2 separate regions of the Homo sapiens genome follow, and region 2 is linked to region 1. Evidence: fine-mapped expression QTL. Tissue or cell type: monocytes after Pam3CSK4. Region 1 holds a variant in brackets; the other region holds the start of a gene. All regions are shown on one strand. Distances are from middle to middle.

Evidence for each region. PIP is the estimated chance that this variant, and not a neighbour inherited with it, causes the effect.
Region 2: HTRA3 starts here. The variant in region 1 is fine-mapped to the expression of HTRA3 in monocytes after Pam3CSK4 (Quach 2016, PIP 0.95). The same link has a PIP of 0.9 or more in monocytes after R848.

What each region holds. Positions count from the first base shown.
Region 1 is chr4:8,353,666-8,356,423 of GRCh38, reverse strand. It overlaps a transcript of ACOX3 not described here. Among named protein-coding and RNA genes, the nearest start is that of LINC02517, 35 kb to the right of the region's middle. RefSeq lists an enhancer at 2,585-2,758. The variant G/A (reference allele first, on the strand shown) is at 1,586.
Region 2 is chr4:8,268,640-8,271,139 of GRCh38, reverse strand. HTRA3 (HtrA serine peptidase 3) reads right to left here and starts at 1,386. Exons shown (of 9, transcript NM_053044.5): 1 at 787-1,386. The coding sequence starts at 1,171. LOC105374373 (a long non-coding RNA gene) reads left to right here and starts at 959. Exons shown (of 2, transcript XR_001741572.2): 1 at 959-1,033; 2 at 1,744-2,500.

The sequences.
Region 1 (2,758 bases):
TGCTCCGTGGCAGCCATCCGTGCACATGCATCACTGTGCGTGAGTTGGTCCCAGTGGCTTGCTGAGACATGCTCTGCACAGGGGAGATTTCTTATACCAGCAGTGTGGGAGGCAGTGGGGCAGGTAGAGCCACAAGTGGGGATGAGGGAGCAGAGTCTAGGGCAGGCTCCTGGATGGACACCAGCTACACTGTCTATTGGATGTGGGACTTCCCTCACTGATGAAATGAATAAGAGAATCTTCCTCATCCTGCTGTTGTTGGCGTTAAAACGGGTTAATGCATGAAAGCAACAAAGCCCGGCCTGCAGACAGCACATGGTAAGTCTCCTCTTCCCAGCATGTTCAACAGGAAGCCCTCATTCCCTCTAGAATGTAGGAGTCTTGCCAGCAGTGGCCTGTTTGTTCTCTGCCTGTTGCCGACCTGATGAGAACATAAAATTGGTGTCTTCTGTATAGATTTCCTTCTTATTGCCCCTACTGTGGCTGAACATACCTTCCCCCGTGCTTGAAGTCTGTTCATATATGTTCTGCTGTGATAACTGCCCATTCTTGTTCTCTATCTAAGAAGGCATTTAGTTTTGAAAATATTTTGTTGGCTTGTAAGATATTTGTACATATTAAGCACAGCAAACCTGTAACATATTCACTGTAAATCATTATTCCTCATGCATCATTTGCCATTTAACTGTATTTTTTTCCTTTTTGATGTAACCTGCTATAGTTTACATTTTTAAATCAGAAATGCCTGCACATTTTAAAACGAAGACTCTTATGCTCTAGCCTTTGAGGTCATGCTTGGAAAGTCCTTTCTCACACAAAGATTATTTACACTTTCATCTCTTTTTCTCTGAGTACGTTTCAGTGTTTAATTGACCAGGAATGTATTTCGAGGTGTGATATGAGACAAGGATCTGAAATGCTTTGCCCACTGAATCATCATGCACTGACCGAAATGCCACCTGTATGAGTGCTAAAATCATTGTCGCTGGACCTGTGTCTGCACTGTTTAATTTTAGTGTTGTTTCTCACATCAGCTTCTGTTGTTTTCATGGTTGTGGTTCTCATACTTTTAATATCTGTTGGAGCAAATAAAGCCTCGTTTCTCATCTTTTCCAAAAATGTCTTATGTATGTGAACTTTGGTGTTATTTGTCAAGTCTGGGCATTCTCCCACCCCCATATTAAAGAATGCTCTCTGGAGTTTGTCTGGAGGTTTTGTTTAACTTTTAGATTCACATCAGGAGAATCTTTGTCTTCATGGTAAGTGGTCTTCCCATCTAAGACTATTTCTTCAAGCTGTTTGTAATAAAAAGCTGTGTGATTTTTGTATGTTTATTTTGGTCACCTTATTGAAACCTTATTTTAATTATGACAGTTTTTCATTGATTCTCTTTGGTTTTCCTTCTCTATCATTGGCAAATAGTGATGGTTTACCCTTACCCTTCTGATATAGTTTGGCTGTGTCCCCACCCAAATCTCATCTTGAACTGTAGTTCCCATAATCCCCACGAGTCATGGAAGGGACCTGGTGGGAGGTAATTGAATCACGGGGTAGTTACCTCCATGCTGTTCTTGTGATGGTGAGT[G/A]AGTTCTCATGAGATCTGATGGTTTTATAAGGGGCATTCCTCCTTTTAATTGGCACTTCTCCTTCCTGCCGTCATGTGAAAACGGACGTGTTTCCTTCCCCTTCCGCCATGACTGTAAGTTTCCTGAGGCCTCCCCAGCCATGCTAAACTGTGAGTCAATTAAACCTCTTTCCTTTATAAACTACCCAGTCTTGGGCAGTTCTTTATAGTAGCGTGAGAACGGACTAATACACCTTCCAAAACTTTTACCCGTCATTTAACTTTCCTGTCTAATGACATCTGCTGGCCCTGCGGGATCAATCTTTCACACCATGCTGGGGAACCATTGCTTGGTGTCTGCCATTATGGGAATGCCTTCAGCCTTCGTATTAGTTTGATGCCATGTGGACGGTGGACTGGAAAGACAGTCTTGCTTGGCAGTGGACACAAGTGTGTGCCCATGGTTGTGCCCGTGGCCAGAAATCTCTGTGACTCACCAAGGGAGATGCCTGCAGAATGAGAGAAGTTTCTCACTGTGAGCTTAAACACAGAGGGAGCTTCCTGCGGCTACACGGGGCCAGCTGGGATGCATGCCTGCAGAGACATCTCAAAACCACAGGCGGATGAAGAAGATAAAAATCAGCCAGACCCCATCATCTGTGAAAGCCCAGAAATATCTTGGGGTTGAGGTCTTTGCGGCTGTCACTGCTAAGGATCTTGATGGTGGCGGAGGCGTGGGAACTCTTTCATTTTAGGATGTGTAGTTGACATGGAGCAGCCTCTTGGAAACTTGGTTTGGATGCACTTCTGACGGCTCAGCCCAAGCGTGAATCACGTTCCCCCATCATTGTGTATCCACCCCACCCTCCAGGTTTTAGGTGGTTCCAGCCCCTGGGCTGCCGGCCAGCAGGGAGTGTCCATCTGACCAGCATTTAGTGAACACCTAGCTACACGTAGCACTGTGTGGGGACAGCATGTGCCATAGGACCACCTCCTCGTCACCAGAAACTGCCTTCCTCCTTGACTTTGTTCATGTGGGCCTTTTACTAAGACACTTCACAGGCTTTTCATGGGTCCCATGGGGCCGTGTCCCCATCTGAAGCATGCCCCAGCCATGGGTCCCCTGGAAGTCAGGGGGTCTTGGCTTCTCTCCTTGTGTGGTGGACCCTGTGGGCTTCCTGTCCAACTTCCAAC
Region 2 (2,500 bases), 85 kb after region 1:
GCTACTGCATCTCTCCCTGCCACCTGCAAGCTGATGGCACGCAGGACCCTGACTCCTATCCATGAACCTGGGGCCCGTCGCCTGTCTTCAGTGAACCCCTGTCCGGCCACAGCAGAGTCTGCTTTCCTAAGAGGCACCCCAAACAGGGAAAAAGGTACAGCAGGTTTTCCAGCATTTTCCTCCACGTACAGAGTCAACCTGCACGGTGAGATGCAACCTAGAGCCGACTGCCTCAAGGGAGGCTGTTCTAGGGTCTGACCCCGACATTCTCTCCCCCAAGCAGCCTCTCCCTGGGGCGCCCTAAGCAGTTCAGGGACCTGCACCCTGACCCTTCCCACACAGTCCTGTGGAGACATGCACTTAACCACAGTCTCCAGGAAAGAAGGCATCACCCAAGAGGGCACCCCGGCTGGAGAGTTAGGGCAGGAAAGAGTGCCCTTCACTCAATACCCGGACAGAGCAGGGGTCCAAGGATCAAGGGAATGGGCACGAGACATCAGTTCTGAAGAGACCAGAGCTGGAAACAGTCCTAGATGAGGCCCCTCGGGTGGCCAGGAGACCACCGGGTTTCCCTTTTGACTCTAATTCTGTGACCTTGGGGACAGCGGTTTACCTTTCCGGGCCTCAGTTTCTTCATCTGAAAGACCAGAGGGCTGGTGGGATGATTTCTGAAGGGCCACCCGGTGGTGCCCAGGGAAGGGCGACCTCGAGCTCGGCCCTAACTCCCGGCCTTAGTTTCCCCAAGAGAAAGAAGCTTCACTTCCTCCCTGGCCCCCGAGCGCTTACCCAACGGGCAGGCGCCCTTCTGCAGCTGGCGCACGGGCGTCCCGGAGAGCTGCAGCGCGCGGCGGCTGGCCGCCTGCAGCGCGCACACGTTGGCATAGGTGTGCCCGTCGGTGCCACACACGGCGTGCGACCAGCGGCAGCGGCATAGGCCGCGCACGCACTCCAGGCTCTCGCCGCAAGGCGAGTCCAGAGGGCCGCCACAGGGCTCGCCCTCGCTGGCGGCGCACACCAGGCAGCAGTTGCAGAGGTCGGGCACGTAGCCGCCGGGGCAGCGGGGGCTGGGACACCGCGACACGTCGCAGCGCGCGGGACACGGCGCCGCAGGGGGCTCCCGGGCCAGCGCCAGCGCGGCCAACGCGGCCAGGAGCAGCGCTCGCGCCTGCATGGCGGCAGGGCCGGCGGCGGGTGGCAGCGCGGGAGACCGGGCGGGGGCCGGCGGGGACAACGAGGCCGCTGCGGGGCCGGGCGCCGGGCGCCTACGGATGGGACTGGGGCGGACGCGCGGTCACATGCGCCGGTGGCTCAGGCTGGCGGGCGTCAGGGCGGCAGGGGCATCCCCAGGGCGCAGGGAGCGCAGGGACCAGCTCCCTCCAGCCTGACGGTCCGCGGGCGGCGGGTCCCGCGCCTTTAAAGGCGACCGCCCAGCCCGCCCTCGCTGGAAGGGGCGGCCCGGCCCCTCCGCCAGCCCCGCCCAGGCCCCGACAGGGCCCCGCCTGGCCTTCCGGGCCTGGACCCACCCGGCAGGCCTTGGGACTCTGGTCGGCCTGGTCGAGAAAACCCGAGGCTACAGACACGCAGGGGTCCTTTCTGGTGGGGACCCCCGGGCCCAGCCTATCCCAGAAACGTTGGGGGATGCGTTCTCCCCGCTCTGGAGGGGTCTGTCCGTGTCCAGTCTCCTCTGTGCCTCAGTTTCCTCCTCCAGGAAAGGGGAATTGACAGCATTTCTCAACCTCATAGGGTCGTTGGAAGAACCACAGAGGCCATGGCTGAGCAGTGTTCCCGAGTCCTCGCTGTCCACGGAACCGGAAGCTGTTTCCATTCTCATCATTGCTCCTGCATTTTCTGCAGGGCCCCTTCAGACCCAGGTCCCATCACGAGAGTCAGAATCTGGTGACAGTGCGTCAGCTGATGGGGTGAAGGCTGCGGAGTTGTGAGAGAAGGCAGAACCCCCCTTGGAGGTGAATGTCAAGCCTGAAGAGGAAGGATGGGAAGCGGGAGCTGGCCGTGACCTGGGCAGAGGCTCCCAAGCAAAAGCAGGTCGGGGCAGCAGGAGATAACGCCGCGCGCACAGCCTGGAGCTGCGGTCTTCACACTGTGTGTGTTCCTAGTACCCTGGGCTGCCTGGCGAAGCCTGGGTGTCCTTTTCAGAACGATGTCGTCAAGTAGATTTAAACGCATAAAACAAAGACCATGGGGTCACAAAGGGGAACAATTCTATCAAAACACAGTTATCAAAATACATGAAACAATTCATGACAGCGTGGCCTATGGGCTTCTTTATCAGCATGTTAATGGCAGGTTCTGGTCGGTCTGTCGTCTGATACCAGTGGACACTTCGCAGCAGCCCTGTGCAGAGGGCTGCCACTGGAGACACCTTCGGTGAGGGCGGTAACATGGGGATGTAAACACTGCTTCTGCTGGCCGTGGAGCCACAGGCCCTGCTGGCTGGGGTCAACTGCACCCCCAAAGGAATGAATGCTGGACTTCAGTTGGA